Linked DNA regions of Homo sapiens. The protein of the gene in region 1 purifies or fractionates together with the protein of each later gene. This does not show direct contact. Each region holds a gene or a part of one and is shown in the gene's direction. Other genes may lie near its edges.

What was found.
Region 2: the proteins of F8A1 (region 1) and RASA2 purify together in Homo sapiens (affinity purification with mass spectrometry, with the first as the bait; one large-scale study listed by BioGRID). This does not show direct contact.

What each region holds. Positions count from the first base shown.
Region 1 is NC_000023.11:154,883,858-154,889,410, forward strand, and holds F8A1 (40-kDa huntingtin-associated protein), read left to right. Parts: upstream 1-2,497; 5' UTR 2,498-2,517; coding exon 2,518-3,633; 3' UTR 3,634-4,204; downstream 4,205-5,553. Other genes in the region: H2AB1 (histone H2A-Bbd type 1), read left to right, coding at 1,193-1,540.
Region 2 is NC_000003.12:141,490,027-141,494,466, forward strand, and holds part of RASA2 (ras GTPase-activating protein 2), read left to right. Parts: intron 1-4,440. UniProt on the Homo sapiens protein: Inhibitory regulator of the Ras-cyclic AMP pathway. Binds inositol tetrakisphosphate (IP4).

The sequences.
Region 1 (5,553 bases):
CATTTGGGAAATACGAATGAAAACCACCATGAGATAGCACTTGACACCCAGTAGGATGGCTACTGTAAACAAAACAAAATGAGGCAAACAGAAAACAGGTTTTGATGAGGCTGTGAAGAAATTGGGACTCTCATGCACTACTGTTGGGAATGCGAAAGATTACAGCTGCTGTGGAAATCAGTTTGGTGGTTCCTCAATAAGTTAAACAGAATTACCACACGAGCCAGCAGTTTGACTGCTAGAAATAGACCCAAAAGAACTGAAAAGAGATATTCAAAGAAAAACCTGTAGAGAGATGGTCATGGCAGTGCCACTCACAATAGCCAGAAGGGGGAAATAACCTGTCCATCAACTGACGAGTGGGTAAACAAAATGTGGCCTCCTATTCATACAACAGAATCGTACTCAGTCATTCAAAGGAAGGAAGTAGTGATTCATGCCTCTACATGGATGCACCCTGATGAAACCATTACGCTAAGTGAAAGCAGCCAGACACACACGGCCTCACATTTGGTCGTATAATTCCATCTATAGGAAATCTCCAGAACAGGCTAACCTCTATGGACAGAAAGCAGATGGACTAGGGGTTGCCAGGGACTATCGGGAACGTGTGTATGGGCGGGGGCAGGGGGTGTGTGTGGGAGGGTGTGGGGGCTGGTAGTGGTGGTGTGGAAGGAGGCGTGCGGCAAGTGACTGCTTATAGGTACAGGGGTTTCGGTTTCTTTTCGGGGTGTTGAAAACGTTTTGGAACTAGGTGGTCGTGATGGATGTGCAACATTGTGAAGGCGTGGTACCCGTCCTCCCCTCGCCCACCCCTTTGTCTTTCCCACGGTGTTCCCATCCAGTAGAAAGGGAAAGTTCCCACTGGCAAAGAGAGGGTCACCAGCGCGATTCCCCCTGCCCCGCCCCACCCCACCCCCACGGCCCTCCAGCCACTTCTAGGCCCAGGCCTGCTCCCTCGAGGCCAATGGGAAAGTGATGAGGTCACCTGACGGACGTGTGTCCCTTGTGAGGGGCCGTCACCACATGCGTGCCCGTCGCCGGATGTGCGTGCCCATTGGTCTCGGCTCCCTAGCCAATGAGGGGCTGGGCCCTGGTCGCTAGGATACACAGTACTGGACGCGGTAACTGTCCTCTTGAGAGCCATCTTGCCTAGCTGGGCCAAGCCGAGATAGCACACTCAACGCCCAGCATGCCGAGGAGGAGGAGACGCCGAGGGTCCTCCGGTGCTGGCGGCCGGGGGCGGACCTGCTCTCGCACCGTCCGAGCGGAGCTTTCGTTTTCAGTGAGCCAGGTGGAGCGCAGTCTACGGGAGGGCCACTACGCTCAGCGCCTGAGTCGCACGGCGCCGGTCTACCTCGCTGCGGTTATTGAGTACCTGACGGCCAAGGTCCCGGAGCTGGCGGGCAACGAGGCCCAGAACAGCGGAGAGCGGAACATCACTCCCCTGCTGCTGGACATGGTGGTTCACAACGACAGGCTACTGAGCACCCTTTTCAACACGACCACCATCTCTCAAGTGGCCCCTGGCGAGGACTAGCTTCTGACACCCGGCCCCTGGGACCTGACAGGTCCACTCGTCCACCCACCCGGCCCCAAATCCCCCGGCCTGAACCCCCGGCCTTAAACACCCTCCCCCCACAACCCAGGCCCCAAAGTCTTGGGCCTTCATTAATTCTGTCAATAAAATGTTTCAAGGAAGCCATCTGCCCGCTTCAGTCACTTTGCCTTGGGGTGGGGGTGGGGGGGCGGTGAGATGGGTTGGGGGGTTGTGAGACCTCCACAGCTGGAGGGATGGAGAGGTGGTGGGGGTCTGGGGTTGGGTGGGAGCCAGGGATGGCACAGAGGAGCAGTCTCTCCGGGTGACAGTGCAGGGGAGTGGCCCTGGGTGGGAAGGGGACACCCCCGCTGGTTCTGAGCAAGTCAGGGCCTGCCCGGGAAAGTCCTCAGCATGATGGTGTTCGTTGGGGCGGGTGGGCCTCAAGACCATGACTGCAGTGTTGCGACAGGACGGACTTCTAAGGCAACCGGGGTGGGGACGGAGAGGTGGACCCGGTGCTTGGCAAGGGGCCCTGGACCGGAAGACGGAGGACTGAGTAGTCGGGGCGGGGGGGGGGGGGGACAACAGTCTAGAAATGCGCAGACATGGAATTAGGGTCACGAGTTTCGTTTGGGTCATGTTCAGATGGAGAGGCTGTGGGATGCCTTTAGCAACCTAGACCACTTGCATTGCAGCCGAGCTAGCAGCAGCTGGTGCCCCGCCAGGCCCCGCGTACCTTCCCAGGGTCTTGGATCCGCATCCCCGAGACCCTCGATTTGCATACGCCGCTCACAGCCCGGCCAGGCCCCGCCTCCGATCCCGCTCTTTGCACCTCATCAGGGCAAGGGGCAGGCTCGGGCTGGGGAGCCGGCGCGGGCACGGCGGCAGCCCGCCGAGGGGGACGCAGGGCACGTCGCCCCGCCCCGGCCCGCCCGCCAGCTGCGGCGGCGCGTCGGGAAGTGCTTGGGGCGGCGAGCATGGCGGCAGCGGCTGCAGGCCTGGGCGGCGGCGGCGCCGGCCCGGGACCCGAGGCCGGGGACTTCCTGGCCCGCTACCGGCTGGTATCGAACAAGCTGAAGAAGCGGTTCCTGCGGAAGCCGAACGTGGCGGAGGCCGGCGAGCAGTTCGGACAGCTGGGCCGGGAGCTGCGCGCCCAGGAGTGTCTGCCCTACGCGGCCTGGTGCCAGCTGGCGGTGGCGCGCTGCCAGCAGGCGCTCTTCCACGGGCCCGGGGAGGCGCTGGCCCTCACCGAGGCCGCCCGCCTCTTCCTGCGGCAGGAGCGCGACGCGCGCCAGCGCCTGGTCTGCCCCGCCGCCTACGGGGAGCCGCTGCAGGCCGCCGCCAGCGCCCTGGGCGCCGCGGTGCGTCTGCACCTCGAGCTGGGCCAGCCGGCCGCCGCCGCCGCCCTCTGCCTCGAGCTGGCCGCCGCCCTGCGCGACCTGGGCCAGCCGGCCGCCGCCGCCGGTCACTTCCAGCGCGCCGCCCAGCTCCAGCTGCCCCAGCTGCCCCTGGCCGCGCTGCAGGCGCTTGGCGAGGCCGCCTCCTGCCAGCTGCTGGCGCGCGACTACACCGGCGCCCTGGCGGTCTTCACGCGCATGCAGCGCCTGGCGCGGGAGCACGGCAGCCACCCGGTGCAGTCACTGCCGCCGCCCCCGCCGCCGGCACCCCAGCCCGGGCCCGGGGCGACGCCCGCCCTACCGGCCGCGCTGCTTCCTCCGAACTCCGGCTCGGCGGCGCCCTCTCCCGCCGCCCTGGGCGCCTTCTCGGACGTGCTGGTCCGCTGCGAGGTGTCCCGCGTGCTGCTGCTGCTCCTCCTGCAACCACCGCCCGCCAAGCTGCTGCCGGAGCACGCCCAGACCCTGGAGAAGTACTCCTGGGAGGCTTTTGACAGCCACGGGCAGGAGAGCAGCGGCCAGCTTCCCGAGGAGCTCTTTCTGCTGCTCCAGTCTTTGGTCATGGCTACCCACGAAAAGGACACGGAAGCCATCAAGTCGCTGCAGGTGGAGATGTGGCCACTGTTGACTGCTGAGCAGAACCACCTCCTTCACCTCGTTCTGCAAGAAACCATCTCCCCCTCAGGACAGGGAGTCTGATCCATCCCATTCACCCAGTGACTTCTTTTTGCCCAGGCCTGGACTTTTTGCATCAGTCACGTTAACCAGATGACTTTGCCTGTTACCAAACCTCATGCATCCACGTTTGCGTCTGGGGAGGAATAAAAAGACATCGTTCCCGCTTCTGCGTTTTGTTATTCCTACTGCCGCCATAGGAATTATTTCGTTGGCTGAACGTTACCAGCACCCCGAGAACACATTTTGATAGAATCAGAGTAGAGGACATGGCTGTCTTCTAAAAAGCCACGACATGAAAATGACAATCCCTTTCGTCTCCTTCCTCCGCTGCTTCCACCTAACGCAGCCTCCTGCCTCCGCCTTTGTTTCATAGTGAGGATTTTATTTTGCACGGCGCCCTCCCTCTAAATACCTACCCTAGATGATTTCATCCTGCCCCTCACTTCTTAACATATTCCTGTGTCTTTGTAATGGCCAAATTTCTCCTTCCACTCGTCCGCACGGTACGTCTTCATGGGAGTCATTTTATTCCTTACAGCTTCCTTGTAACCACAGCCCTAAATCCATGATAAAGCTACTCTTGTACTCCTCATGTGTGGTTTTGGTGTCCGTCGTCTATAAAATGTGACTCTCTTACCTACTTGTCAGGAGGCCAGCAGCAGAACCAGATAGCTGTTTGGGCTCCAGGATGTATTCGTTCCTTTGAAATTTGCGCTATGCCTCCTATGTGGGCAACGAACCTGCAGAGATCATCTATGATGTGCTCCGTACTCGGGTGACTGCAATGCAGATACATCCAGTGCAGCGGGTCTGGTGCCGATGCATCGATTTGCATTGGAATTCACGGTTCTGGTTCCATTCGCAGAGGTATATGCAGTCTGGATCACAACAGCTTTTATTTGTAATAGGGATTTTTTTTTTTTTTTTTTTTTTTTTTCCCCCCGAGATGGAGTCTCACTCTGTCGCCCAGGCAGGAGCGCAGTGGCGTGATCTCGGCTCACTGCAACCTCCGCCTCCTGGGTTCAAGCGATTCTCCTACCTCAACCTCCAGGGTGCCTGGGATTACAGGCGTGCACCACCACGCTGGGCTAATTTTTGTATTTTTAATAGAGATGGGGTCTCACCATGTTGGCCAAGCTGGTCTCCAACTCCTGACCTCAAATGATCCACCCTCCTCGGCCTCCCAAAGTGCTGGGATTACAGGCATGAGCCACCACGCCTGGCCTGTAATAGGGATTTTGCTGCAACTTTTAGTTAAGTAGGTGAAATCAGAGTGCGTGGCCCTTTGGTGTTGTGCGATCACGTGACTGCAAGGCAGCCTCCGTGTTCCCCCAAAGCAGGATGGCGTTCCGTTTGAGAACACTTAAGTTTCCAAGGCTTTCTGGCTCAAATGGAGCATGCCCCCCAACTACGCTGTTTTCTTATTTATTGCGTCTTTTTAATCCTTTTGATGGTGACAACAAGAACTCTTCAGAATATAGCCTCTTTCTCAAACTTTCAACCCTGGGGAAATGCATCCTTTGGGCCGAAGTTGCACACAATCCTGATCTTCGGGGCTGAGATGTAAGGACACAGTTTGGAGTAGGTGTTTTTGTTTTGCGTCTTTTTGCAGGGGAGAGGTGTGGAGGGTTGTCACTGTGAGTTGAGTGCCTCCAAATGGGTGGGACTTGTAGGGTGTTCTTTTCTGCTTCTATTTCTATTTCGACAGTGTGGAAGTAATGGGAAGCACAGGAGAGGCCCATTCCACCATCATTCCTCTTTCTCTCACTTGGCTGCCAGGAAGGGTCCTACGGAGCCCTGAACGCCTAGCCCAAATTATTGTAAAAGCGGTTGAAGGGCTCATGCTCCTTTGCTCTTTGGCTCTTTCCTGGTATGCTCCTCTTAACCCGGGCTGCAGACCTGGCCGGCTGGCTTCTTGTCAGGTTCAGGAGTTACGGAGCA
Region 2 (4,440 bases), on another chromosome or scaffold:
TCAGGTGTTTTATATGCGCTCAAACGAACCCAGGGAATTCGAGATCCATCTATAAGACAAAATATTGTCAGCAACCCTGGATTTGCTGCAGTTTGCGCTAGGAAACCATGACAGTTCTGAATTGTCTGCTTCCTTAAACTTTTTCAAGAGGTGAGTTTGGTTGTTTGATATCCTAAGGTTGTCATATGAACCCTTGATAAAGGAAATTAGGGGTGTACTCGACTCCATTCTTCGGTCTGCACTCCTGTGTAGCGAGTAGCAAGTATGCTAGAACACCTGAAACACATTTGCATGCTCCCTCCTCCCCTCAAAAAAAAAAAAAAAAAAAAAACCGTATTCAAACAGAAAAGAGGGATTGGGGCTTCCTCCTTTATGTATCTTCAGGCTTCATGCTGTTATTTGGTGACCTCCTTTTTGATTAGCACTTGTTAAGTTTCCTCTTATCCAATTACATTAGATTGTAAAAATGTTGCGGAGAGCACCCATGCCACCATATGTGTGGGCTTATCTACTCAAGGAATACCAGATCAATAAGAGAGCCAAATGGGAAAATTTTGTGTGAATTTTCAGATGTGTGGTACAGTGCGAGATCTGTGGGACTATGTGTTCCAAAACTCACTTAGTTTCTCTGGTGTCTTCAGACCAAGAATAGCCTAGGGTTATTTGACAGAGTAGGGAAGATCTATAGGGTATGGTTAAGTGCTTGAGCTTAGAGGCTGGGTGAAAAAGTTAGTTACCTGGGTTTGAATCTTCACCTAATTTCCAACTTTTGTTAATGTCTTTGGGCCTTCATATTCTCATATATAAAATGGGGATAGTAAAAATACCTATCTCACGGGTTGTTATGAGGTTTAAATAAGCCTCCCTCCCTACTCTGCCCCTCCTCATCTCTGCCTGCTCTTTCTCACTCCCCAGGATCTGGGTCATACACCGACCATCTCTTAGGAAGGAGTAAAGTAGGAGATAAAAACTAATCTTCATCTGATGTTCTTGTCCAATGTATACTGGAGTTTCCAGGTGTACAAAGCTGATTAAAATCTGAAGACCTATATTCTTCTTTAAACGTTGTTAATTAATCTTCATATGGCGTTAGCCAGCTCACTTATCTTGAAGCTTACCTTCCGCATCTTTTAAATGGGAATGATGCTTTTCCACTATCCATTGTATACAGGTTGTTCCCTCTGCTTGGGATTGTCTTTCTTCTTTACTCCACCCCATCTTTATGTCAGGAAGCTCCTACTCATCCCTCAAAAGCCTGCTCTATGTGATCTCCTTCCCAAAACCTTCTGAGACACTTCCAGTGCCATCTCTGGCCAGCATCTCTGCTGCTGGGGAACACAATTCCTTGCTCATTTCCTTATTATAGCACATTTCATAGAAATCATTTGTTCACTTCTCCTGTTAGATTGTGAGCTCTTTCAAGATAGAATTGATTCTTGTTCATTTTTAAAAAATCATCCCAGTGTCAGCACAATGCCTAGAACAGAATAGGCCTTTAGAATATGCCCTACCTCACAATGTTATCCTGTGGATAATTACTAGATATGAAAGTATTTTATAAATTATATACCTAAAAAAACTAGAAGGTGTTAGTATTAAGAGAAAACTGTATGAGTCTGCATCAGGAAGTTCATCCCTTTCAAAATCACAGTGCCCACTAAGCTTAGGTTTGAATTGATGCCAAAGTTGCCTTGTTAGGAAAAAGATTAAATTTTTCTTAATGCTCTGATTACTTATTATTAGGGCATTTGAATATTGTTACTAATTGGTCCTGGAGCTTGGAAAAGAAAATCTCATATTCATACTTTACACATTAAGTGTTTTAATTTGACATGACAGGTTTGAATAAAACCGTCTATTTAATTCTGTGAAGTATAAATCAAAACATTTTATTGACTATCCAGTAAAGTTGAGTGGAAGAGATTAAAAAGGGTGTATTCATGCTAAGAGTTCATTTTTATCAGATATTTGAAATGAGATGATGAGTTATTTAGGATGGAGGAAGAATCCATCTTTCAGATGGATAGAAACTGGGGAGAAAAGGGTTCTTTGTAAAAGTTCACAGAGCAGTCTGCTAATCATTTGCTCTGTGGAAGACGGGAGGTAAACCTCAGTGAGTTCATAGAGTTGTTTTTTTAAAACTTAGAACTCTTTGAATAGATCCTTAAGTGACTAATATAGCCAGAATAAAACCATCATTTTATCCTTTAATCATAGCTGCTAATCCTATTTCCTTGTTAATGTGCTTTATGAAATTATTTGACAATAATATCAGATTACATGTTTTTGCTACTAATAAAGTTCTATTCTCTTTTGAGAACTGCAAACAAAATGTTGTATAGTCATATATTCATGTAAGTTAAGCTTTTTATGTGTATTAAGACATTTTTATGGCATCTCTTTAGGTTTGTATGTAATTTTAGTTATCAAAAACCCCTATCTAAAGTGATAAACATTAAAAGTTTGTATCAGTACACATACAGAGAACCATAAATGACAAATTTGTTTTCCTGTCATTAATGACAATGACTTTGGGCAAATTCTTTAACCTTGCTGAGCCCGTATTTCCTTACTTGTAAAATTAGAGGTTTGGATATGGTCTTTAACATCCCTTCTACCATTTTGATTATTGCTTTTTAACTTGAACCATTTGCTTTAAGGCAGTACATCAGATGCTTTATTTTAGTGTTTAAATGTATTTAGTACACTTGTTTTGCATGATTCACTGTTTTAAAAATATTTAAGATTTATTAGATAAGAGCGTTTGAATTCTAAATTTTTTTTCTGTGACTGTTAATTAATTCAGCAGCACGTAATACATATCGAAGGGTCTGTTAAGAGACGCTAACCCACTGGACTGAAATGGGCCTAAGCTGTGAATCGGATGAAAGATCCTATTTTATCCTAAAGTCTATACTAAGCAATAGCTGTTTTTAGACATCTGTATTCTTAGACAATTATAGAAATTTAAAGCTGGAAGGTAGAGAACATGAAGGTAGAGAAAATAAAGGTTCTTACCCTTCATTTTACAAATGAAGAATCTAACAGAGACAGCAAGTGTCACACAGTTGATGGCCTGTTCGGCACTAGTCCACTATTATCAAAGTTCTTTCTAGAATGCTATATGAGATTAACTTATTACTATGAATGTTGCAAATGTACTACATTTAATACACAGAGATTATACTACTTATCTGTTTATATATTGAGAGGTGGTAAGATTTTCACTGTGCCGTCTACACACTCTTAACTGTTCCTTCTTAAGAACTTTGTGAAGTGGTTAGGATTAGTGATGAAACTATGGTTATGACCTAGGTGGAGATTGAACCTGGATGTTTAGTTACTTGTGCCATGGTCTACCTCAGCTATTTTCAGTTCTGACTGTCTGTCACCATCACCTGTGAACTAAAAAAATTATGATGCCCAGACTGTACCCCAGACCTACTAAGTCAGAATTTCTGGTTTCAAAAGTTCCATAGGGGGTGATGTTGGGCAGCTAGGATAGTGAATTTCTGCTTTTGTCACAAATAGATTAGCCACATACCCTACCTAAATGATGGCAACCTGCTGTGCTATCATTTAAAAGGTATCAGTAGAAAGGTTGGTATAGTTACAGTGAGATTTTAGTTTGTTTGCATATATATTTGATATATTAATTCTATTTGATTAGATAATATGAACACTTGGTACAAAATTCAAGAGGTACAAAACAGTATATACATTGAAAAGTATTCCTTCCTTTCATTATCTTCTAGCCATTCCCTCCCAAGAAGCAAGCATTACCAATTTGTTATATCCTTTTTGTTGTGTGTTCTTCCAGAAATTAAGCATTTACAAACATAAATTTATGTGCACTAATATATTCCTTCCACCAACATACAAATTATAGCAAAATATATACATTTTTCTGTATCTTGCTTTTTTACACTTAACAACATAGCTTGAAGATTTTTTCACATTCACATAAAGAGAGATCTGCCTTATTTTTTAAACAACTGCATAATATTTCATCATTTGGCTGTACCACAGTTTATTTAGCCAGTCCCCTATTAGTTGACACTTAGGTTGTAAACAGTCATTGCTATTACAGACATTACTACAATGAATAACCTTGTAAGCATGTCATTTTTAATATGAGTGTCTTTTTGTAGGATACATTTCTAGATAGATGTTAAATTGATGAATTGAAGGATATGTGCATTTTTATTTTGGAAAGACAATGCTAAACTATAGCAATTTAAGCTCTCACCAGCAATGTATGACTGCCTATTTCTTTATACCCACGTAGGGTGTATTTTAAAACTTCTTAATCTTTACTGGTCTATGAAATAAAAAGGAACATTTAATTTGTAGTTTTAATTTGCACTTTTAAATGAGAGTGAGGATTGCTCTGTCACCAGGGCACGATCTTGGCTCACTGCAACCTCCGCCTCCCGGGTT